Regions from separate parts of the Homo sapiens genome. Here regions 1, 2, 3 and 4 are each linked to region 5. The links come from fine-mapping of genetic effects on gene expression. A gene starts in region 5. Each other region holds a variant in brackets. All regions are shown on one strand. Distances are between the middles of the regions.

Region 1 (5,102 bases), 290 kb after region 5:
GGAACAGGCTCATTCTAAGAACTCCTGCAGAAGTGAAGTGGAGCAGCCACTTTATAGCTTGAGCACAGAGTCCCGATTTGCTCACCTAATATCCATGTCTGTTCCTCCTTCCCATCAAAACACTGCTCCTGAATCTCACTGAGAAGGTACCGCACAGGCTCAAGTTGAAGATTTATAAGTCCTGTTAAGTCTCTTCTAGCTGTTCTGAAACTTGCCCATAGTTCAAGGAGAGGGTTTGCGGAGCTATCAGGGGTGCCTGTCGCATAGCCTGGAAATGTGCTTACACTATCTTCTTTGCCCAGTGAGCGAAGGGAAACAGAGGACACGAGGCAGATATCATGTGACTTAAGAACGCGTGGAAGAATAGGAAACGTCTTCTCAAACGTGGGCATTCTCAGACCACAGAGGCTTCGGGAATGGCTCTTGAAGCTGTTGGAAATTTAGCAGTGGGGAATTCTAGGCTTTTACCAAACAGTCTTTTCTTTTTTTGGTGGTAAAATAGACATGGCATAATATTTGCCACTTTAACCATTTGTAAGTATAAGTTCAGTAGTATTAAGTCCGTTGATGTTGTTCTGCAACCACCACTACCACCCATCTCCAGGGCTTCTTCATCTTCCATGGCTGGAACTCTGCATGCCTTAAACACCAGCTCCCTCTTCCTCCCGCCCCAGCAGCCACCATTCTTCCTTCTCTCTAAGAACATGACCCTCCAGGGACCTTGTTTGAGTGGAATCACACAGTTATTCGTCTTTTTGTGACTGGCTTGTTTCACTTAGCATGCTTTCCTCAAGGTCCACCCATCTCGTGGATGTGTCCGAATGCACTTCCTTTTTAAGGCTGAATCAGTAACACTGTGTGTCTACACCGCACCTTGTCCCTGCTGTCATCCATCAGTGGACACTTGAGTCACTTTTGACTTTTGACTTACTATCAATAACATTGCTATGAACATGGGTGTACAACTCCTGTATTTTTAAAACAATGTGGTTTAAAAAATGGTTTTCAGCATACAAGAAACAGCCACCCACTGCTGTAGATGGCCTGTGACTCTGTCCAAGAGATTTTTTTAATTATGTCCTTTAAATTGGGAACCAAGACCACTGGCTTCATAACCAGTGGCTGCATGTTATGACTGGGCACCCGTGGTGACTTCATTTGAGCAGAGGCAATTGCAGCACCAGGCGCTGGGTGTCTCTCCCAATGCACCTGGACCACTGTAGGCGCTCCCTGCCTGGCTGACTGAGGTGTCACTAACGGTTTCTCTCTTCTCGCACCCCACCCTCCCCGCCCGTGCCCTGTCCCCATCCCTGTCCCTCCCCACCTCTGCCCCCTCCTCTCCACCTTCTCTTTGCTGGCGCCTCCCGCTCTCCAGTGCGACCAAGACCAGTGCATTCAGAGCACCAAATTCGTTTTGCAGGCTGCAGCCACGCCCCTGCTGCAGAGCGAGCCCAGCCTCACCAGCGACGAGCTGCACCTGCCCGGGAAGCCTGGCCTGGGCACGCCCTGCGCCAGCCTCACACTGGGCCCGCCCACACCGCCCGCCTCCATGCCCAACCTCGCCGAGGCCACGCTCGCGGACGTGATGCCCCGGAAAGATGAGCACATGGGCCACCAGTTCCTGACGCCCGATGAGGCGCCCTCGCCCCCCAGGCTACTGGCGGCGGGCAGCCCCCTGGCGCACAGCCGCACCATGCACGTGCTGGGCCTGGCCAGCCAGGACTCCCTGCATGAGGACTCTGTGCGCGGCCTGGTGAAGCTCAGCTCCGTGTGACCCACATGGCCCCAGGCCGGGGGACACCAGAGGCTCCTCCATGGGCAGCAGGAGTGAGCGGAGGGGTGTGTCCCACAGCGACTTTCCCAGCCAATGCCACGGTGGAGATGACAGCCCCAGGTCTGGGGTACAGAGACCACTTAGGATGGCACAGGGTGGCTGGCCCCGGATGCTGAGAGCTTGGTTTCATTTGAATTTTCTTCCCCAACCTGAGTGCTTTGACAACAATGGAAATAGAGAAGTGGCTGCTTTCTTTTGGTGACCCTCCAGGGGTGGAATCGGAGTGTGTCTGCCCGCCCTTGTGACAGACACACGGAAGGCTTCTGACGCTTGTGGCCAGACTGCAATTGCACTTATGTGTTATGCTACTAATATTTGAAACAGACCTGCCATTCCATTTGTTAATT[A/T]AAAAAAAAAAAAATCCTAAAGGGAAAAAACCGACCAGGTGTGGATCTGCATGCCACGCTGCCGTCTGTGTTACAGTGGTGTTGCTATTTCCAAGGAAGTGCTGCTTTCTTTTTCTTTTTTTAATTTTGTGAATTTTCAAGTGCTGTTTTGTTGGAAGACAGTGCAACGAACTGAGACTAATGGACAGTGTCATCACTCAGCTTACTGGGCTGAGGCGTCTGTGGAGAGGTGGCACCGGGGCTGCAGAGGGCGGCTGGGGTTCCGTCGTGTCGGGTGTCACTTCACCTTCTGTTTGGCCGCTCGATGAGGTCTCGTGTTGAGATATTGTGTGCCACAACCCCCACAGTCTTCACCTCCGTGTGTGATGAAACTTCCCGTGGACAGCCAATAAAATGACGTCCTCTGTTATTTTGGATCTGCGTACGGTTATCCTTAATAGCATAAATGAAAACAAAGTCATCCAGATGGGGAGAGTTTTTCTTGAAATGTCCCTAGCGAGGAATGGTCCCCAGACAACCAAAAGTCAAATCTTTGAACTGGGAGATATTTATAGAATAATTTCTTAGATAAGAGGCAAGTTTTCCATCATTTATTTTCTTTAATTATCTCTTTTTGACACCATCTTAGTGGAATTTGCTCTACGTTTGCAGTTTGCCGTGCAACAGTTGATCGGAAGTAGGGAGAGGGGAGGGGACGCTCAGGGAGAAGGTTCTGTCGGGCGTCTTCTGGGCTTCCTTCTGTGTTAACGTGTCACTCAATCCCAGAAGTGCAACTTGAGGTCCTAGTAAAGGTATCAGAAAATGAGGAGGAGAAATCGGCTTACAGTCTAAGCTGAGATCATGTAGGTCATCATCCTTCCTAGACACTGATCAGAATGAAATTAAGAAAATGACCACTTTGTTCACTTTCATTGGTCACCTAGAAGGGAACGAACTGGCTCTGGACTTAGGGAGTGTGTCACTATGGGGGCAGCCACAGGGGACACAGCAACTCCTCTCCTGGCTTCTTTCCAGACCATAAATCTAACAGCTAAAGCTACTCAAGTTCAAAGCCATGGCCTTGCTCCTTATAACCATATGAAAGACAAGACACATTGACCAATGATACAAGTAACCCAAGTGATTTGCATTTATGGAAAAAGGCTATTACTCCTGAGAAAGAGTTGCCATTTTATATAAAAGAAAAGAAGATAGGAAAAAGAAAAGCACACAAGTTTTATTTGGAATGAAGGCAATTCACAGGTCACAAAATAATTCATGCTGAAAGGGCCTGCAGAGTTCTTGCACTGTGATGTCTTCGAGCCATCTTTATTGTCATGCTGCATGCACGTATAGAAAATGGAATAGGTCCATTCTATGTAGCCATTTTTGATTTTCTGAACCACCTAACTACTTGTACCCACCTGCAATGTGTAATTCATGGGGCAGTGCCCTCCTTACACAACCGCACACGCTCACAGGCACCAACTCACAGGGATTCTCCTTGTCCACGCTACCTGTGAGCCCAAAGTGACAGCCCCACAAAGGAGCTTCCACAACTTCCCAAACCGTCTCTGCTCCTTGCTTTCTTCCACCTGCTCCCCAGAGGCCCCAGGAAGGAGTTGGCCCTGATGAGAACGGTGCTCCATGGGTGACCGCGAATCCGGCTTAGCCCTCACTCCGGTCCCACGTGTGGCCCAGTCCATTCTCAGCTCATTCCCCTGGAAAGCAAGATCATGGTCTTCAGAGGCCTCCCGCTTCTAACATTTCCTAACTCAGTGGTTGCCACTCTCCTGTGACCAGCCCTTCTTCCCACCTCACTGTGAAAAATTCCCAGAAGCCAGGATCACGACTCACTTGTCTTCACATAATGGATATTTACTTAATATTTATTATCAATTTCCCCACCTCCAACCCTGTCCCTGGCACACACTTGGCATCATTTATCCAATAGGGGACTGGGAATTTTGGTGAAGTGAATCAAGGCTATTCAGGGTCAAGAGAGAGATTAACTTGAATGGGCCAATTTGCTAGATAATTAATGTCTTAAAAACCAAAACCAGAGAGAAGCCCACAGCCCTGTCCTCTGTGGCTTGAAAAAGAAACCCAGCATCAGAGGAATGAGCGATGATGCCCCCTGGGGCGCCCACTTCTGTTTGTCAGGAGGGATGGTCGGAGGGGCAGCTCACCTGGCGAGGTGATGGCTCTGCATTTCCCACGAACATATATGTGACATGTACATAAATATAAATACTTATGTTTATAAATGTTGAATGGTTCCTTCTAGCTGTGGCTGAGTAGACGTTGGTGTTTCTAACTTCTTTCAGTGTGTTAGAGATTGATTACATGCTAGCTATAAAAAGTAAAATAAATATTTTACCATGCTATTAAAGCTTGGACCATTATCAAACACACACAAACACACACTCATTCTGCTGTTTAAAAATTCATCTGCGTTCGTTCTCCCAGGAGTGCTCCAGGGAACCACAGGCTTCCCGGCACTTGAAGGCTGAACTGAGCGTGAGTGCCCTGGTCCCCAGGAAGCAGGCGGATGCTGCAGGAAGGTGGCAGACAGCCTGCATCCAGGAGGGCCCCAGGAAGTGGGGATGCTGCAGGAAGGCGGCACAAAGCCTGCATCCGGGAGGGCCCCAGGAAGCAGGGGGATGCTGCAGGAAGGTGGCAGACAGACTGCATCCAGGAGGGCACAGTGACCTGTCACTCCGTTCTGCAGAAATTGGCCCAGCAGTTGCGTTATGCCCAACCAAAAGATGCTCGTTCCAGCTTTCAAATGTGATGATTTCAGCCTGTGAGGACAATGCCATGTCCCCACCCTAAGCCAGCAAAATGCGAAATCTCTGTTCTGGCCCAGAATGGCACAAGGGAGGAGTCTTTGCAGAGTTCCACGCCACCCCCCAGCTTACTGCGGCCTTCACCGGCTCTGT
Region 2 (5,102 bases), 180 kb after region 5:
GTGCTGACTCTGGTGGAGAAGCCAGTGAGAGGTGGGGCTGATGAGGAGGAAGAGTTGCGGGCACTGAGGGGCTCGGGTTAGAGATGAGGCCAGGCCTGTATCAGGGAACTGGAGCGCAGAGGGATCCCTCCAAGAGACACTGAGGGAGGACTCAGTCCTCTTTCTCCACGAGGGAAAGGCCGAGAGCCTGGACCAGACCATGCCACTCCGGGCTGTGTCCTGGGGAGGCCGCTCAGCCCTCCAGCTGCAGTCACCTTCTCTGAACCAGGGGCAAAATAGCACCACCTGAACTGCCGGGCTGCTCGGAGAATGACATGAAATATTGCACCTGCGGGCCTAGCACAGCCTCTCGCACGCTGTAGCAGGAGAGGAGGATTTGCTAGTGGTGACTAGGTCAGGGCAGAGTGGGAAATTGCAGCCAAATTAAACAGAGGGGCAGGGCCAGCACCACGGGCGGGCAGAGGACCTGTGCCAGGCTGGTGGCTCTGGGAGGGTTCTGCCAGGCGTCAGGATTGGTAGGGGTGCCTGTTCTGATAGAAGGGAAAAGAAACTTGACTTTTGCCATGTTAGGATTTTAGTCTCCAATGGCTCATCCTATAATATATATGGATTTTATAGACATGGACAGAAAGTGCACAGTTGATTTTCACATTCGGCAGAGGTGAGTCGTTGGTTAGATGTGTCCAGCATGCGTTAGATGGAAGAATGAGATGAAAACAAAACGTTATTTTAGGGGCAAGACTTTGGTTGTCCTTATTTGCAAATTTAGCTCTAAGAATAACTTCAAGACAAGGAAGGGGTTTGTGGTCCACCTCTTGTCAGCTGGGTCCATTGCTATCTGCAGACTTCCTCGTTTCATTTCTGTAACCACTGAGAGGAGTGTGAGCAATAGATGGCTCTCAGCTCAGTGCTCCCAAGCAAATAGACTAGCAAAGGAATGGCGGCCACTCCCCTGTGGGAGGCCCATGCTGTGCAATCCGGGCAGAGTACTGGGGACTGCTCTCACTTCCGTCACCCTTATTGGGATAAATAGTGAATTTCCCCTGATTTCCAATGAATGATTTTGATTGGCCAAGCCAGCGCTGTCCAGTAGTCTATAATGTGAGCCACACATGCAAGCCACACATGGTAAATTTTCCAGCAGCCACTGTATAATAGTAAAAAGAAGCAGGTGAAGTTCACTTTAATAGTATGTTTTATTTAGCCCAGTTATTGGGAGTATGATCATTTGAAAAGTAATCAATATGTAAAGATATTTAAAGTATTGAGATATGTTACATTCTCTTTTTTTGTACTAAATCTTTGAGATCTAGCCACAATATGTGTGCCCAAGAGCCCCCTGCAGACAGTGGCCAGCACCTTGGACAGCATAGATCTAAACTCCTCAACCGACATGCTGCCATTCCCAGAAATGGCTGATAATTACTCTGAGCCAGGTGACATTCATGTCCCCCTGATCCCCTTTTGACAGATGCCTGGTATTCTGATGGTTCATTTCTGACCTGGCTAGTCTGCATTACACAGGGAAACTGTTCAAGAGCCATGGATCACCCAGAGCGCCCACAGGTAGGCCGTTCAGTGACAAGAGTAGCCAATCGAGAGGGCTGACACCCAGCTGTTACCAAGTCTAGAGGAAAACAAAACTAATGACTCTGGTGCAAACATGGAATCCAATTTTGTGGAGAGGAGGAATTTCTAATATAAGAAAAGCAATGGCCCATCAGTAAAGAAAGATTGGATTCAGGCAAAAGCAATGAAAGACTCAGAATTGTGTTTTTGGTTTTATGTCTTCTGTTTGGGATCCTCATTTCAGGCCCTTATGATTCTGTTTTTCCACTTGACAGTGCACAGGGTGGTTGTAAGGAGTCATTACTAAAACAAAAATGATTGGGATGGCATTTTGCAAAAATCACCAAGTGAACTTTGGTGGTAAAAAAAAAAAAGCAAACAAACAATAAAACAAAGTTCAAGTAATGTAGATCAGAGATTCCTCTTCCCTGCTGTAGGAACTTTCTAGGGGAGAAGCATCTGGAAGCAGGACTTGCAGGCACAGCTGCTCAGCCCCCAACCTCGGAGGGTGGATTTCCCCCCAGCTCTCTAATACAAATGAAAGTGAGCCCTTTGAGTCTAATCACACTTCCCAACTCTTACAGCTCAAAACACACAAACAATGAGCTTTTTCAAGCT[C/T]CCCATGAAGCTCTGCCGAGATAAAAGCAGTTAACAACCACTCTTCCATGATGATAAATGGTTGTTGGTTTTCTTTAATCAATATTTTAATAACTATTTGCACACTTTGACAATTATGACTACAGAGAGACTGATGGTGATTACAGAAGCAGATTGCAAAGGTGATTCACGAGGATGTGGTGGTCGGCCATCTCTCTGGGACAAGTGGGCTTTAGCCGGGAACCTGCTGCCCCACAGGCTTCTGAAGCAGGTGTACTGTAGCTATTGCGTGGGCAGCTGATGTGGCAACAGTCGGCCCCGCTTCCTGGCTGACGCGCTCTTCTCCAGGACAGCTTTGCTCCCCAGCAAGTGCAGCAAAAATTCACTCCAGAATCAGTCACTTGCCTCTTTCCGTGGGCATGACTTTAGAGCCATTGGCTTTAGAGCTGAGTTGGCCACCACCCTGTGCCTGCATGAGTGGAAAGAATCCGCTCAAGCTGGAACTGCCCTCAGGTCTCCCAAGGAGAGCCCAGCCACCCTGCCATCTTGAAGGGCATCTTCCTGGAATAACAGCATGCTCATGTTTCCTGGCACTTCTTCTCATTCTCAGTTAAAGACATACTCCATTCATTGTTTTCACTGTTTTGTTTTTCCCCACTTCAAGCTCCAGGTTGTCATGAATACTATTTTGGAGTTGGACCCATTATAAATGTTTTGTCCAGAAAAGAGTCTGGAAGGAAAGCTCTGAAACGTCTGGATTTACAGAGAGAGAATTAGGAGCTGTCTTTCTACATTGTGTCAAGTTTTAGAAATAAACATGAAGAACCAAAATAATAAAATGATGGAAAAAATTCACTGTGAAAGAAGTTGAAATAGGCCCCCATGGACAGGGCTGCAGGGAGCAAAATAGAAACCTTACTTGAAAATAAACATGAAGATGTTCATGATAGAGTTATTTATAATAGTGTAAAGGAAGTAGAAGCAATTTCTATGCATACCAGGAGGGAAATGGATACACGAATTACACTATACGTCTATGATGAATTACACTATACCTTTCCACTCATGCAGGCACAGGGTGGTGGCCAACTCAGCTCTAAAGCCAATGGCTCTAAAGTCATGCCCACGGAAAGAGGCAAGTGACTGATTCTGGAGTGAATTTTTGCTGCACTTGCTGGGGAGCAAAGCTGTCCTGGAGAAGAGCGTGTCAGCCAGGAAGCGGGGCCGACTGTTGCCACATCAGTTGCCTACACAACAGCTACAGTACACCTTCTTCAAAAGCCTGTGGGGCAGCAGGTGCCCGGCTGAAGACCACTTATCCCAGAGAGATGGCCAACCACCACGTCCTCGTGAATCACCTTTGCAATCTGCTTCTGTAAACGCCACGTTGTTAGAACGTCTTAAAATATTGATATCAAAGATATCTAATGGCTTATAAAAGTTATCCTTATACAATTTCAATGAAAATATGCAAAATACAAAATTGGATGTACATTGGGATCTTAATATATATAGGAATTATAAGGAAATATAAACAAGTTTTTTTTTGTGATTGGACTGGCAAGTAATTTTAGTTTTTTTCTCTGTACGTTTCTGATATTCCCTATGATGAGCATGTGTTACCTTTATAATTAGAAGAAAAAAAATCAGTAAATGTCATTACATAAACTCTAGCATTAATAGATATGCATTCAGCAAACATTTATTAAGCAGTACTTCTTACTCATTGCCTTGGCCTTGGCAAATCACGAATTCTCTCTAGGGGCTTTGTGTTTTCATCTGGATAATGGGATCCCACGGCCTTGCCTGACTCACAGAAGCATTATGAGGAACGGATGCATTAACCTGAAGAAGCTGTGAAAATAGCAGATTGCTTATCCAAGCACAACATTATGAGGCGTGGCGTGTCTAATCACGAACCCACTAGAACATGAGAAAGAAGAAATTGAACAAGACTGTAATGAGTTGTTTGGAATGGAAGCCCATAAGAAACTAAAACCAAAAAATAGTCAGCATTTAAATGCAGAGTGCAGAAGGACATTTCGGGGAGCCCAGGTCCTCAGAGCGTGGGGGTGTTAGCTGCCCTGTGCAAGGCGGTCCTTTATTGGAAATCGCCTCAGAGAGCATTGCTGAGTGTGGCTTCTTGCAACTACACCTGAGAACGACATTCACTCTGCTTCATTGAAAACAATCTATCCCGTGTGTGGAAGAAGCATGCCTTGCTGGGGTCAGGGCCAGGGACAAAGCTCAGAGGCCATGCTGAGTTTTCATCAAACACCTGCTGAGCAGCTGGCACGTGCCAGGACACGGTCTAGGCTGAAGGCTGCCATCGTAGTGCAGAATAGAATCCCGTGGAGGTTGGAAATGTTTACCTGCTTGCTTTTTTTCTTACCGTGTGTATTATTTTCAGTAATAAAATGTATACATATACAAGTGAGCACCTTCCCCTGGAAATTCTGACTCAGCAGGTAGAGTGTCCGACGGGCGCGCATGTGAGACCTGCTGTCCCGGCGCTCAGATACACATGGGGGACAAAAATGACAAAGCAGCCACCCTCAGTTTATAATTAGGAAACAGAAACTATACACGCACACCTGGCACAGAGCAGGTGCTCTCACCCAGACCTCTTGAATTGTTGAGTTGAATTTATTTATTTATTTGAGATGGAGTTTCACTGTTGTCACCCAGCCTGGAGTGCAGTGGCGTGATCATGGCTCACTTTAACCTCCACCTCCTGGTTTCAAGTGATTCTGCCTCCACCTCCCAAGTAGCTGGGATTATAGGTGTGCACCACCACACCCGGCTATTTTTTGTATTTTTTGTAGATAAGTGGGGTTTTCACCATGTTGGCCTCCCAAAGTGCTGGGATTACAGGTGTGAGCCACTGTGCTGGGCCCTGAATTTAAAAGTTAAACGCAGAATACATAGATGTTCTC
Region 3 (5,102 bases), 24 kb after region 5:
CTCGGCTCATTCCAACCTCCGCCTCCTGGGTTCAAGCAATTCTCCTGCCTCAGCCTCCCAAGTAGCTGAGATTACAGGTGTGCACCAGCACACCTGGCTAGTTTTTAAATTTTTTTATTTTTAGTATAGATGGCATTTCACCATTCTGGCCAGGCTGGTCTCGAACTGGCCACCTCAGGTGATCCGCCCGCATCTGCCTCCCAAAGTGCTGGGATTACAGGCATGAGCCACCATGCCCAGCCTGGCGATATACCTTCTGTTGCCTTCTGAACTGGACTTGTTGCATTGTACAATAAAAAAATTATGCTAATTTTCACCAGAGTTCATGGATTTGGCTTTATTTTAGAGCACCTGCTCTCATTAAAGATGTTAGCACATCAGAGAAAATGTAAATTGAATTTCTAACAAGCACTCTTGGATGGGAAAGGGGTTTTAAACAGAATTTCTTTGTTTTGTCCCTTTCAGCAAATACTATTGTCATGCTCCACAAGCTGGAACAATAACCTACGAAATAACCTGCTAGGTTATGAATGAAAGCATATATTTTGTGAAATTTGTGGTCATTTAGTTGGGTTGAAATGAAATAGTCACTGATGTTTATTTTCTTTATTATTTTCTTCAATGTTTTACCCTTACTCAACCTATGCACCTGGGAAAGGGGAAGGCTGCCAGTTGCTTTCTTCCTGTACCCTACCATGGACCCACAGCCCCTAAACTCCAGTACAATTATTCCCTGCACTATTGTTCTCTGCCTTAAGCATTAGAAAAGGGTTTAGGGCCGGCCTGAGAACTCTGTCTTCATTTGTCACATTGTTTCTTTGGGAAGACACATTCCCAGTTTCAAACAACCAACCTACAAATTAACTTTAGGGGCTGCCTATTCACTAAAAAAGAAGGCTGATTTCTGTAGAGCTGATTAGCTGAGCAGAGCTCATTAGCTTAGCTTAGTTTAGCAAGTATGATCTCCTTAGCTAATGTGACACCATAACATAGACGCTGCCACCCACCGGTGTCAGGAAGCGTGAAAGGCAGTCCAGAAGTGGCAAGCCTCATGGACCCGCCTGCAGGAGGGCAGACCCACTGCGGCTGCTGCTAAACCAACACCAGCAGGTGCCTTGGCAGGTGCTGAGCATGGTGGGCACACAAACGGGAGGACTTTTCCCAGTGGGGCCTGCCTGCACAAGCCAGGTGCTGGCTAAGGGCTGGTAGCTTACTTAACCCACACACTTCCCCCATAGTTGGTACTGTTATTAGTTCCATTTTACAGATGAGAAAACTCAGTGCCATATATCTTTGGAGTCTATTGTACAAAAATAGAATACGTTGAACATGGAAAGTGGCTTTCTATTTATTTATTTATTTTTGAGAGAGTCTCGCTCTGTCACCCAGGCTGGAGTGCAGTGGTGTGATCTCGGCTCACTGCAACCTCCACCTCCCAGGTTCAAGTGGTTCTCCTGCCTCAGCCTCCTGAGTAGCTGGGACTACAAGTGTGTGCCACCATGTCCGGCTAATTTTTGTTTTTCGTAGAGGTGGGGTTTTTCCATGTTGGCCAGACTGGTCTCGAACCCCTGACTTCAGGTGATCCCCTCATCTCAGCCTCCCAAAGTGCTGGGATTACAGGTGTGAGCCACTGTTCCCGGCCGGAAAATGACTCTTTTCTGAAAAATAATTTATGTCCTCCTCAACTAATTCCTAGGGCCTTTATTCAACATCCTTTGCTTTGATAAGACTCCCCAGTGGTGACAGAAGCCTTAGTGGATACTTGGGAGTTGCTTTAGGGAGAGGGTCTCTCCTGTCTCTCTAAAGTGCCCATTTGAGGGGATAAAAATAGCTGTTGACCGTTTCCTAGCAATGAGTCAAGGACAGAAAGTCCCTGGGGCAGGTGGCACTGTGCTTGGTTCATAGATGCTGAATGGAAGCTGGGTCCTTGTCTTTGGTTAGATAACTTGTTTTTAAATATATATTTTTTAATTTTGGAATATTTTAGATTTAGAGAAAAATGTTTAAAATAGCATTACAAAACTTTTTAGTTTGCTTGTTTATATTTCAGCTCTTCCTCATAAGCTCTTTAGCCATTGACTATTTTCTTATTAGGAGTTAAGAGTTAATGAATGGATTCCTTATGCGCTACTGACATTTCAGGAAAAAGGATATGCAAGTAAATTAGAAGCAATGGGTAAGAAAAGCAGCCCTCCCAGGTCCCATTCAGAACATTTACAGGGATGCCTTCAGAAGTGGTGGATTTCAACCTCAGTGGGTAAAGAGAAACAGGGCTGAAGCTCCCGTTTTATTTATTTTTTTCTGCTCATTAAAAATATATATTCTAAGTAGCTCAGGAATATTTTATGTTAGGGTCTAAATTCAGAAATGTGAAACAAGGAGAGAAACCCATCTGGGAACTTTTTTGCACCGCCAAAAGATCCAGCGCAAAACCTCCCCCAGGTGAGCTCTTTTTTTTGAGATGGAGTCTCGCTGTCTCGCCCAGGCTGGAATGCAGTGGCGCGATCTCGGTTCACTGCAAGCTCCGCCTCCTGGGTTCACACTATTCTCCTGCCTCAGCCTCCCAAGTAGCTGGTACTACAGGCACCCGCCACCACGCCTGGCTAATTTTTTGTATTTTTAGTAGAGACGGGGTTTCACTGTGTTGGCCAGGATGGTCTCGATCTCCTGACCTCGTGATCCACCCGCCTTGGCCTCCCAAAGTGCTGGGATTACAGGCGTGAGCCACCGTGCCTGGCCGAGCTCAAAATTTTTTTTAAAAAAAATATTCTTTCCTCTTAAAGTCTGGAAATTTTGGTCAGAAAAACCTCTCCAAGGGTTGATATTAATAATAATGGTAATGATGATGTGGAAAATATGTTGTACTGTTAATAATAATCATGGTGCATTTTTGCATAAGCAACTGTATTTTGAGCAATGATTTACTCAATTATAAGTGATTCTTTATTATAATTGACTAACTGCTTGTCACTTTATAAGTGAGGCTCTAGTTAGC[G/T]CTTTGATGTAATGACTGGCCTTAAAAATAAAGTGCTATGCAAGCAAAGACATTTTGTCATGAATTTGTAATGATTTAGTGTGATGGAGCGGGTGTGCTAACATGAAGATTAAATCATGGATGGGCTATAAATGGGGAATTCTGGATGGTTATTCCCCATCCCCCACCCCTGCTCGGACCTCCCCAATTTTTCCATCTTTGTTGCCCCTTCTAAATAGGATAATGCCACCCTTGACAATCATTTGTTTGAGTTAAACCTTGTCCTTTTGAGGGCATGCTTTTAAAAATATTAATTCCTAGCGGGAGAGGTAATGCATGAAGTTTATATCGTATCAGCTCCAGAGCGTGGATTAGCTCATCACTTTCCCACCAGGCCTGAGGCCCTGAACAGGAAGCTGCAGTTGGGGAGGGAGTGGGGTGATTCAGAGCTTGGAATCCTGGAGGACCGGGTGCTGAGAGGTGCACAGGAGGGAGAAAGAAGGTTGAAAGGATTTGAAAGTCGAAGGGATCCGTGTATCTGTTTGGCTATTCTTGAACATGTGATGTCTCCTCAGGTATTGCTATAAGTAGGATCATAATTCTCAGATTGAGGTTATGATGTTGATAGATTAGGACATTGAATCGTACCTTTGGTTGAATATGATTGCAGAAAAATATTATCTCAGAGAGCGCTGGATGGAATTTGGCTTGCTGAGCTAGTGGAGTATTCCCAGCTTCAGAAGAAATATCTGGTTAAGCCAGGGGTTCCCCAGCAGGGTTCTGACTGCTCCATTGCTAACTTATGGGGCACCTTCAGGTAAATGTAAGAAAGTCACTCCTTCTTCAAAATGGTTTATTTCTGCTGTCAGAAAATTATCATTATATACATATTTTTATTAAAATAAGACATTTCCCTCTGCTGGAAAAATTTCAAACTAAGGATCTAATTCCATGAGGTCTACAGTGTAAATGGTGCCGTTACTTGTAAAGCCCTTGTTCAGTGAACAAACCGCGCAGCTGAACATGCAGCCTTGCTTCCTTTTTCTCCAGTCCTCTCTTCTCCATTTCTTCAGCAATGCTGAGTCCTCACTGAGCTAATTGCCTGACATGCAGAAGAGCCTCTCTTTGTCTGCGGGTCAGAGAGGCAGTGAGAAGGGGGATAGAGTCTTGCTTGTCAGGCTCCAGCTACGAGGCATTAAGACATGCACCGGCTTTTATTTTAGCATTGCCGTTCTCAACCTTGGATTAGAAGTGCCCTGGATGTATAAAAGAATTTCTATAAATGTAATGGACACACATTATGGGCTAGGAATTTTATACGTCTCACTAGTCCTTACAACAAATGACCCTATAATGTAGGTGGTTTCGTGGCTCAAAGAGGGTGGGTGACCAGTCCACAGCCGCCCACCTAGTAAGCAGCAGAACTGAGATACGGACTTGGGCTGCTGGGTTGCAGAGCTGCTGGCGTCCCTGGTGGGTTTCCACACCAGGCCACCCTGTAGCCCCGCCCCTGGGAAGGGAGTGAGTGGGACCCTGCCGTCCCCTTTCCTACATGGCCGCTGTGTATAGGCAGCAGCGCAGAGGTGGTCTCTGGGTAGGGAACCCTCTGCCTCCTAGGATTCATTGGGGATGAAAGTCGCAGCTGTTTTATACTCTTCTTAAATTTTGCTTTCCTGTTAAGCCAAGATTTACTGGACACAAGAAAACTTCCCAGCAGTCCCCTAGAAGGAAAACTAACTCTTGGTAGTCTTCCCATTAGCAAATAAAAGTCCCCAAATCATTTTTGTAGACTGCCCAAACCAAGGCACTTTTCATCTGAGAAGACACAGCAATTGTCTCAGCTGTAAAGTAAAAGAGAATTAAAAAAAGGTGGTCTCTTTTGAAAATTCCTGTTGGTGCTTTGGCCATGTGATTACAATGAAATTGGTGTGCCTTCATCTTCAAAGGGCAGAACTCGGTGCTTATATGTTCATTTCATTGTAGTCTGATGGGACAGACACTTCTTGTTGGCCTGTCCTCATGCTCCATATTTATTCCAGGTTGATTAGGATGGCATGTGAACTTAGAACTAAATAAACCTTGCTTGGATGGGTCACCTGGCTAAGTAAACTTACCATGAACTTCTCAG
Region 4 (5,102 bases), 160 kb after region 5:
AGGGGCCACGGTAAGAACTGCTCCAGCTCTAGAATACCTGGATCTGAGACCAAATGTCAGACACTGGTTCCCAGGCTGGCTCGTGTAGAGTTTAGTCTGTCCCAGTGGCACTTCTCCCTGACTCATAACAATCCCTGCTTCACGTCAGCATGTCAGACTGACAGCAGTGAAAAGGTCGAGTTAAGAGTTGGGCCATGTTCATCCATTGATAGCTCAGATGCCCTCTGGAAAAGCATGAGATGATTCTATTCCAGCTGCTGAAATCCCTTAAATCTTCTTCCGAAACCTGCCTGCAAGTCCATTTCCATAGCTCATTCACTTTGGAATAGATTACCTCCAGAACATGGAAAATTGGTTTCTTGCCCTTTGAAAGTGTGTGTACAGTCCTCAGCGTTTGGTGCTGGCTGAAAGTTCCCGAGTCATTTGACCCAAGTGGGAAAGGCTGGCTCTCATGAAGATCATTCTAAATTGGTGTCTTCTTCTGTTATGTAATCCCAGGGGAGGGCAGGGGGATCTCATAGACTCCCGAACCGTGTTTACAGCACAGAGGACACGTGTCTATTTATACAAGCTCTGTGCGTCTTAGACTGATTATACAAGCAGGACTATTTTCATTCTTCTGCCAGCATCTTCCTGTAAGAGCAGAGGGCTTGGGCGTCATACTGGGGAGTGGGGGTTCAATTGTCTGTAAGACAGAACTGCAGACCTCCCCAAACGTAAATCTTTCACATAGATGAATTTTTAATGGAAATCAATTTCTCTCCTCCAAATAAGCTTTTGATTTCTTAGAAGATAAAGACTGCTTACTGTTGATTCCTAACATTGTATTTCCTTTCTTTTCCCCTTCTCTCCGGTCTGTCCAACCTGTCGGCAGCTGTCCGTACCTGGCGGTGAAAATCACCCCTGCCATCCCTGCAGTCGCTGGCATCCTGTTCTTCTTTGTGATGGGGACCCTGCTCCGCACCAGCTTCAGCGACCCCGGAGTCCTCCCACGAGCCACGCCTGATGAAGCCGCCGATCTGGAAAGGCAAATAGGTAACACTGAAAGTCTGCCCATGGCCTCTGGTCACTTCCCGCCTGGGCCCAGCTACAGTGGGGACGGCAGGCCGAGGGCTGTGCAGGAGGAGCTGAGCGCTGGGAAGGAAGGAGGCCAGAAGTCAGCGTTCCTTAGCTCGCTGGGTGGGCAGGATGAGCTGAAGAAGAGGTGGGATATAAGGCTGGAGGGACAGGTATCCTGGAGGCAGGACTGCAGGCCCACTCGAGCAAAGCATCAGTGTGAGCTGTGCTTCTGATGTTTCTTTGAAACCCAAGTGTTTGATTCCACTCTACTAAGCAGCCTCCACCCCGAGAGATTACAGTTGTAGGTTGCTGCCCTTTCTCCCTTTTGCAATCCTTGGAGCATGACCAGTTTCCATGATATAAATCTAGGAAAGTTACATCTTAGGCAGCTTTCTTGTTTATCCAGGCCAGGATTGAGAATTTCCTTTATTTAGGTATAATAAACATGTATCTGTGATATGTATTGAGATGAATAGCTTTATTTTTCCTTAGATATTAAAACCTATACTAAAGTTTATTACAACCCATTTTGAAGATATTAAAACAGATCCTAATCCCTTACACAACAAACTTTTACAGTTTTTTTTTTTTAATTAAAAGGAGTGCTTTTTCTTGCTCTTAAAAGTTTGTGATTGTGAATGTATAGCTTTGCTGTGGTGCTTTGGTAAATTTCACAAGCATGGCAGAGGAGCTGTGATGACTTGGTGTGAACATAATGTTTAGGCCTGAAAAATCACTTGGCAGAGATAATTCTCTTCCAGGATTCCTCCTATTCTATGGACTTTCCTTTGCAGCCTTCACTAAAGCTGGAGGGACCTCCCTGTCTACAGTGTAAGAAGATAGAGCTGTGGATCTTGCTGAAAAGTGCCTATTCTGGTCCTACCATTCCCCAAGTACTAAAGCACAGCTTTGTCCTTCTCTCGACATCTGCCTTCATCCTTCATCCCTGCTGCCTGGAAAGGGAGCAGTAAAATGGGAGTGTGTGGAGTGTGTGGTGTCATCTGCTAGACTGCAGCTGTCTTGTGTCCTGAGGTAGGAAGGAGGGGGAGGGAGAAGCAGCAGTGGGCAGACAATCTCTTTCTTAGCCCCTGCATCATGGGATTCCAAGACAGGGCATGCTAGTGCATAATTTTAAGGCTCACATTTTGTAGCACTTTAATCGTTTGTCAGGCCCATCCATGGCTATCACTGCATTTTTTTCCACATCTAAGCCACCTAGTAAGGAAAACTTTATTATTACACCCATTTTACAGATAAGGAAACAAAGCCCCCAAGAGGGGCTTAAATGGGTGAAAGTGGCAGAACTGGAGCCTAGAACCCAGGTTTCCAGATTTCAGACCTTGTTCTTTCCAGCTCCTCATATCATTGAGGAGAGAGAGGGAAGTCAAACCTAGTTTCCTTCAAAACTGTATGGTTTATGCCTACAATATATGAGCAGGTAACTTGAAAATCCTCTTCTCAGTGCAAGGGCCCAGCTCCCATACTGGGGGTGATGCAGTTTCCTGCAGTGATCCCCATCTCCAGGTTAGTGCAGGTGCATCTGCAAAATCAGCACGATTAGGAACAGACTTTCTGCCTTTCTTACAAAGTGGATGAGGCAGGGCACGGTGGCTCATGCCTGTAATCCCAGCACTTTGGGAGGTCAAGGTGGGAGGATCACCTGAGGTCAGGAGTTTGAGACCAGCCTGGCCAACCTGGTGAAACCCCATCTCTACTAAAAATAAAAAAAATTGGCAGGGTGTGGTGGTGCGAGCCTGTAGTCC[T/C]AGCTACTGGGGAGGCTGACGCAGGAGAATCGCTTGAACCCAGGAGGCGGAGGGTTGCAGTGAGCCAAGATGGTGCCACTGCACTCCAGCCTGGGCAACAGAGCAAAACTCTGTGTCAAACAACAACAACAACAACAACAACCAAAAAATAGAATAGTGAGATGCCACTTCACACCCTCTAGGATGGCACTAATCAAAAAGACTGACAATGACAAATGCTGGTGATGATTTGGAGAAACTGGAACCCTTGTACATTACTGGTGGGATTGTAAAATGGTACATCCACTTTGGAAAGCAGTTTCTCAGAATTCTCCAAAAGCTAAACACCATTACTATATGACCCAGCAACTCCACTCCTAGATATGTCCACACAAGGACTTGTATATGAATATTCATAGCTGCATGAAACCTAACAACCCAGATGTCCATCAGAGGATGAACTGATGATCCATATGTGGTATATCCATACAATTGGATTCCATGAAGCAATAAAAGGGAAGAAAAGTATTGATACAGGCTACAACATGGACATTAAAGACATTTGCTAAGGGAAAGAAGCCAGATACAAAAGACTATGTACTGTGTGATTCCATTTGTATAAAATGTCAAAGAAAGCACAAATCTTTACAGACAGAAAGGAGATTAGTGATTTCCTGGGGCTGGGAGGGTAGGAGTGCAGGTTAACTGCACATGACATGAGGGAGCTTGTTGGGATTATGAACATGGTCTAAAATTAAGTCGTGGTGATGGTTGCACAATGCAATAAATTCACTACAAGTCACTGAATTGCACACTTTCTATGGTGACTGCTGTGGTACATAAATTATACCTCTATGAAGATGTAAAAAAAAAAGGAGGAGGAGGCCGGGCGCAGTGGCTCACGCCTGTAATCCCAGCACTTTGGGAGGCCGAGGCAGGCAGATCACGAGGTCAGGAGATCGAGATCATCCTGGCTAACACAGTGAAACCCCGTCTCTACTAAAAATACAAAAAAAATTAGCCGGGTGTGGTGGCACACACTTGTAGTCCCAGCTACTCGGGAGGCTGAGGCAGGAGAATGGCATGAACCCGGGAGGCAGAGCTTGCAGCCGAGATCACGCCACTGCACACCAGCCTGGGCGACAGGGGAGACTCCCCCTAAAAAAAGAAAAAAAAAAGTAGAAGGAGGGTGGGAAGGGAGAGAGGAAAAAGATGGGGTGGAAGAAGCAGAAGGAAAAGAGGAAGGAGAGGGCTTTGGAGGGCCTCAGACATGGGTTTGAATCCTGGCTCACCCTTTCTCTAGTTGCGTGACTTAGGTGAGCGGTGCAGTTTTCTAAACTCTATCCCTCTGTGTTCTTATCTGTGAAATAGGAGTAATGGCATGGATCTTTTGAGGTTCTTTTCAGGATTAGCAATTATAGGAAAAGTGCCTGGCACATTGTAGATGTGTAGTAAATGATCGTTTTTTGTTTTGTCTAATTCTTCTCTTTTCCCACTCAGTTTTCTCTCCACCTTCTACAAATGTACGTTCTCATAAAAAGCTACCTAAGCGTGACAGGAATAAATGGCAGAGCTGGTACAATGTCTTTGGGACCGCTGCCTGCCAGCTTAGCTGTACCTCCTCCAGGCTGAGGAAGGGGTGCAGGCACCTGCAAGCTGGGCTCATTTCCATCACTGATCTAACCCTTCATAAGGAGTCCTCCCGTATACTACTTGGCTTTGGAAGATAAGGTTGTTTCAATGAAATCTTAACACATTTATGTTGTGCTATCTGGCTAAAGAAAGAAAAATGAACAATTAGATTTGGAAACTTTTTATGGTTAGAGTTATTCATTCTAATTATCCGTTGTAGATCTCTTCCTTATAGAAGCCCATAATGGCCCCTTGGAATCAGCCATCTGAGTAATTTATTGAAGATTTGCCAAGGATTTAAACAGCTTTCCCCTGTCTTCAAACTTCTGAGAGGAGTAGGTGGGGAGGAGGAGGGCTCTGGGCTTCAGAGTCTGTTTCAAGGCTCTTGAAATGCCTTACACTTCTCTCTTCTGAAAGAATGTTCCCGATGACTTAGGGTGCAGCTAAAAAGACATCAAAGAATAGCAGCAGGGGGCCAGGGAAGCTGGGGTCACTGGAGGCTTGCTTGGAAACTTCAGTTTCAGAAACTCAGTTTTTACAGTTCACCCAAGGATGATCTGATCGTAAGCAACTGATTTGGGGTTAGAAAAAAATGACAAAAACTGTACTAGAAATCACAGGATCAAAGTGTTGAATTTCTATTAGGGATAGACCTTTCCAGGGATCAAA
Region 5 (5,102 bases):
GAGGGGAGTGGATGGGCTGGTGTGTTTTAAAGCACATTTCAGACTTTATATTATTTCGCTGGCAGATACTTTAGTACATATCTCTAACAGACAAGGAAGGACTTTTTAAAAGCATAACCATAATGCCAGAAAAATTCGGTTTCATTGAGAATAAGAGTGGGAGTCTTTTTTAATGCCATCAAATCAATGGATCTATTATATTAATTGGACACCCACAGAAAAGGTGCTTGCAATAAACAGAATAAGAATAATACCCCGTTGATCTCATTAGCTAAAGGACAGGAAAGCATATGAGAGCTTTCACTTGAAATGTATGAAGCTTTCCAGTTGGTTTTTTAAAACTAGTCCAGCCACAAATACTTAATTGTCCCTGTAATATGCTTGTCTCTCATACAATATCTAAAATAATTAAAACCCAATTATTATCGTGTGCTTAAGATCCATTCTCCCTAGACTCTAACCGGCTTTGGAATGGACCCCTGTAAATTTCACTTGTATTCAAAACTCCTTGTAATTGCATGTCATACTCTAATTGCTATTCCCATCACTTTTTCCTTACCACAGCTCCTCCCAACTGGCCCTCTTGGATAAGCCAATCTCATCCCCCTTCGACACTCCTCACTGAGGCACGCTTTGTAAGGGACATACTTAGGGCTCTGGGTTCGATGCCATCTCTACTACTTGGGAGCTTTGTGATGTTTGGCCAGTAGTTAAGCTTTCTCTAAGCTGGATACAATAATGCCTCACCGGGTTCCGGCGAAGATTAGACAAAGAACATGTGTAACGTGCAAACTGCCCAGTACAGAGAAGGCACCGTTCCCCACAACCCCCTTTGTTGGTTCCCATCTCCCACCACCTAGCCCCAGAACGCCCAGCACCACGCCTCTCCTGCCCTTGTCGCGGGGGATGCAGGGACTTGTAGTTTCTAAGGCCCCGAGTCGTGCTTCTCCTCGGCGCAGGCCTGCGGGCGGAAGAACTACACATCCCAGTGGGCTGTGAAAGGAAAGTGGGGCTCGGGAAATTGAGCATCCCTGCCCAGCTGCCTTCGTTTTCTGCGGCCCCGGGGCTATGCCCACCTCTGCGGGGGCTCGGACCCGCGGCAACGCCTGGGAGGGCGCGAGCGAGCAGAAGCCCCAGGCTCCGGCCGTCCCAGGGCCGCGCCCGCAGCTCCTCCTGGGCTGTCGGGTGGGAAGGGGGGAGGCGCAGGCGGGAGAGGAGAAGCACGCGACCCCTCCGCTGCCGAGGGGGCTCCACGGGGGAATGGAGGGAGAAATAAAGCGAGCAGCTGTAAACGTCCGTGGGGAGAAGTGGAGACCGAAAGAGCTGGGCGGCAGCAACCCAAAACCTGGCCTCCAAGGGCTTATACTCCGGGAGGGAGGCCGGGGCCGGAGGGGACCCTGACCGCTTCCTCTGCCCTTCTTTCTCGGCCCGGAAGCCGGCCGAGCCGGGCCCCGAGACCCTCGCCCGCAGCCCGGTCCCGAAGTCAGGCCGGCCTAGGGCCGCCCCACCCCATCCTGGCACCCGGCACCCCCAGCCCATTTCTCGGGCATCACCAGAGTCCCCGGGCGACGCGACCACGCGCCCAGCTGGGGAGGAGGAAGAAGGGAGGCGCAGGCCGGGGAGGGTCACCTCCGCGCCGCGGCTCCTCAGGTCCCGGGGAGTCGCCAGGAGTGGCTTGCCGGTGGCCGTGGGAATGAGCGTGTCCCGAGGCGGCAGCTGCTGCGCGGGATAAACCCGGAAGAAGCCGCGAGACGGACTGAAGTCGGCCAGGAGCGCACTGCGCGGCGGGGCCGCGGGCGCCCGACCCCATCCCTACTTGGGCGATGCCACAGGGAGCCCCGCGCCTTCCACACCCCAGGGCGCCCGCCCGAGGGGGCTGGGGCTGGAATCTCGCTGCGCCGGTGCCCTGGCTTCGCGGGCGAGGAGGAGGAGGAGCAGGAGGAGGAGCCGCGGGTGAGGCGCGAGGCCACCGCCCACCCGGCCCGGAGGAGGCGGACCCACTCGGAGCGCCGCGCGCGCGCCGGGCTGAGCCTTGCAAACAAGTGTCTGTGCTGTGTCCCCGCGGCCCTCCTCGCGCCGGGGCCGCTTCCTCCGGGTAGGAGGGAGCAAGGGAGCCCTCGCCGCGCGGCCCGCGAGCCGCCGCCGCCCTCGGCCCGCGCATCCCCGCGCGGGGGCCGCGGATTCGACTAGGCTGCCAGGCGCAGCGACACCGGGTCGCGGTGCGAGCGGCGCCCCGGCTCTCGCCGAGAGGCTCCTGACAGAAAAACGTGCGTGGTTGTCCCCACCCCTGGGAGGGGTTGCCGGTGCCGCGCGCGGCCGCCCAGTCGCCAGCGCTCTCTCCTGGGAGGATCCGCTGCCGGAGGAAGGAGTGGACCCAACCTGGCCGCGCCGCAGAAGTGGCTCCCGAGGAAGCCGGCGCCGGGGCCGCCGCCTCGTGTCCCCTCGGGGCGCAGTGCTCGGGGGTCGGCGGGCCAGAGCCGAGGCGCGGCCGGGGAGCCGGGGGCTGCGGGGCCGAGCGGGCAGCCGCGCGAGGGGGCGGGCGCTCGGCGACCCGGGGGCCGGCCGGGCTGAGCCCCGCGCCCCGGGACGCGGGCTGGAAGCGACGGAGGAGTGCTGCCGCGGGCTGCGGACCAGCGCCGTCCCCTCACGGAGCGGGGATTCTGCTATGACAGTTGGGCTCCCCGGAGGGTTAACCTGGGTGTCCTCGGCAAAGTTGTCGCCGAGCCGGGAGCCCGTGTAGGGGCCGCGGCGCCGCGGCTCGGGGGGCGGCCGGGCGGCCGGCGGCGGTCGTGGCTCGGCGGGGCCCGCGCGGCCGGGGGGCTCCTGGGGGTGTGCGCCCCCAGCCGGCTGCCCTCGTGGATGCCTCCCGGCGGCGGCGGGCCCATGAAAGACTGCGAGTACAGCCAGATCAGCACCCACAGCTCCTCCCCCATGGAGTCGCCCCACAAGAAGAAGAAAATCGCGGCCCGGAGGAAATGGGAGGTGTTCCCGGGAAGAAACAAGTTCTTCTGTAACGGGAGGATCATGATGGCCCGGCAGACGGGCGTCTTCTACCTGACGCTCGTCCTCATCCTGGTCACTAGCGGACTCTTCTTCGCCTTCGAGTAAGTGGTGGCGACCGCTCCCCCGACGCCGCACTCCCCTGGTCTCCCCTGTCCCCCGCCCCTCCTCGGGCTGCTTTCGTTTTCTAGAAGTCTTATCTACTGTAAATTGTTATATAATGCCAGTCTGCGCTCCCTCTTTTTTCTTTTAAAGGTCTGATTGCTTTTGGGCCCCCGGAAAGAACGCCGTTCTGGGCTGGGCTTCTGGGAGCAGGGAGGGAAGGGGTCCACTTGCAAGGGGGGCCAGGCCTTGCCAATCCAGGTGGCGGATGGGACCCAGCAGGTGGGGCCGCCGGTCCCTGATCCTTGGGGCGCTCTCTACCGAGTTTGGGGACCCAGCAAATCAGCCCAGATGTAGCCTGCCGTGGGAAGGTGGGGTGCGATAGATTCCTAAGTCAGGGATACATGGAACTGACTTTTTCCCCCTTGCTGACAACATATAGGGCATCTTCTTAAGCTCAGTTGACTGAATCTCCCATGTAACTTCGACGAATAATTGAGGAATCTTGGCTATTTCAGGTTTCAAAGTGTCGGCTGCCTAGTGTGCCCTGGATAGATCATTGCATTCTCCAGCCTCCTACATGCTCACTCTGGATTAACAATTTCTTATTTGCCATGAGGTTTCTAAACTCTTCACTTTCAAAAAGGTTGCAATAAAAGGTGTCCAAAACAAACAATTTGGGAACATGTGAAAGGAGACCTTAGGTCTGTTAAGGAAGAGGATGACACTACGTGACAACTTCCGATTCCAGAAACAGTCTGGACTTCAGGGATTATATCTGGGGGGATAAAAAGCGCATGCAAGTCTTCACCGTTTTCAGGAAAATCAAATTGGCCAGTAGCAACTGTCCTCCTGCCAACTAATGAAAGGTCTTCTTATTTATTAGCAGTGATTAGATAAAGCAGTTAAACCACATTCCAATCAATTTTGGTTGCTTTTTTTGCATCCAACATTTGGAATGCAACTCCTTATGTAATTTCTGGTATCCTATGTTCAATGAAAGGTGGAGTTACTTTTTTCCCCTCAGAATTTAAAGAAAGCAATATATTTATAGGGAGCTCTTCTTTGGGCTTCCCAAATCCTGGTTATTATTGGGCTTGATACTCCTTCAGTCTCCGCCTCCTCCTGTTGGGTAGGCTCAATTAAAACCTTTTGAATTTATTTACTTTTGTTTCTGATTAGGATTAATAGGCTCTAATTTTGTGCCTGGCTTTTGCTCTTCCAAATGCTGTCTCAATTGGAAATGAATGATCTCTTGACAACGTAATACTTGTCGCTCAAAGCCCTCTGACTCTCAGGAGAAACGTTTTGTATCTGGACACTGTGCGCTGATTAGCAGTTTTAAGAGGACTGAGTTAGACCAGGCGATGAGAAGGATCTCTGATTTAAGCGAATTCCCCTTCCCCAGTCCTTCTCACACACAACTCCTCTTCCCCATTTCCGATGGTATGTGCAGTTCCCGGGTCCCCCTTGATGTTTAGGTTCTGTGTCTGTTTGACACTAGTAGGTAGAGTCAGTGGGGAGACCTGTGGACGGGAGGGGAAGGGTGTGAACAGGCATTCAGAGTGGCAGGGAGACACACTCTACTCATGCTGCTGTTGCTCCCATGGGCCCCCATTGAGAGCAGCCTCTTGTCCTTACAGACCTTGGAAACTGGAAGAAGGGGCATAGAGGTTCCCCATGAGTTTACGTTATCTGTTAGGATGAACACTGGCACTGGAAGCGTGATGCCATGTGGTTTAACAGAAATGCCATCTCTCTAATGGTGAATTTAGTTACAGGTGGTCCTCTAGTTGCAGAGTATTAACTGTGTTCCTACAGTTTTTTAAAAAAAATCTTGAACAGATCCAAATTGGCACTTTTGCTCTTTTTAGCGATTTTAACTGTGGAGAAAATGGGTTAATTTTGTGATTCTGTTGCAGAGCTTCAGCCACAAGTGTGCTCCATGGAGGATGATGAATATTTCATTTTCTGTATATACCCAAGTCCCCACTGTATGC

What was found. PIP is the estimated chance that this variant, and not a neighbour inherited with it, causes the effect.
Region 1: its variant is fine-mapped to the expression of ZDHHC14 in whole blood (INTERVAL, PIP above 0.99). The same link has a PIP of 0.9 or more in lung.
Region 2: its variant is fine-mapped to the expression of ZDHHC14 in whole blood (TOPMed, PIP above 0.99).
Region 3: its variant is fine-mapped to the expression of ZDHHC14 in pancreas (GTEx, PIP 0.94).
Region 4: its variant is fine-mapped to the expression of ZDHHC14 in whole blood (TOPMed, PIP above 0.99).

Annotation. Positions count from the first base shown.
Region 1 is chr6:157,671,349-157,676,450 of GRCh38, forward strand. ZDHHC14 (zDHHC palmitoyltransferase 14) reads left to right here. Exons shown (of 9, transcript NM_024630.3): 9 at 1,376-5,102. The coding sequence ends at 1,774. Among named protein-coding and RNA genes, the nearest start is that of MIR3692, 140 kb to the left of the region's middle. The variant A/T (reference allele first, on the strand shown) is at 2,182.
Region 2 is chr6:157,556,853-157,561,954 of GRCh38, forward strand. The region is part of intron 2 of ZDHHC14 (zDHHC palmitoyltransferase 14); the gene reads left to right. Among named protein-coding and RNA genes, the nearest start is that of MIR3692, 30 kb to the left of the region's middle. RefSeq lists enhancers at 1-168, 1-652, 4,556-4,685, 4,963-5,102, 5,046-5,102. The variant C/T (reference allele first, on the strand shown) is at 2,188.
Region 3 is chr6:157,402,793-157,407,894 of GRCh38, forward strand. The region is part of intron 1 of ZDHHC14 (zDHHC palmitoyltransferase 14); the gene reads left to right. Among named protein-coding and RNA genes, the nearest start is that of ZDHHC14, 24 kb to the left of the region's middle. The variant G/T (reference allele first, on the strand shown) is at 2,996.
Region 4 is chr6:157,541,711-157,546,812 of GRCh38, forward strand. ZDHHC14 (zDHHC palmitoyltransferase 14) reads left to right here. Exons shown (of 9, transcript NM_024630.3): 2 at 875-1,035. Among named protein-coding and RNA genes, the nearest start is that of MIR3692, 15 kb to the left of the region's middle. The variant T/C (reference allele first, on the strand shown) is at 2,823.
Region 5 is chr6:157,379,163-157,384,264 of GRCh38, forward strand. ZDHHC14 (zDHHC palmitoyltransferase 14) reads left to right here and starts at 2,028. Exons shown (of 9, transcript NM_024630.3): 1 at 2,028-3,104. The coding sequence starts at 2,860. It overlaps LOC124901446, which reads right to left and starts at 1,929. Exons shown (of 1, transcript XM_047419644.1): 1 at 152-1,929. The coding sequence starts at 1,539. The coding sequence ends at 649. RefSeq lists enhancers at 352-964, 1,576-2,187, 2,946-3,085 and silencers at 1,166-1,245, 1,406-2,295, 2,806-2,855.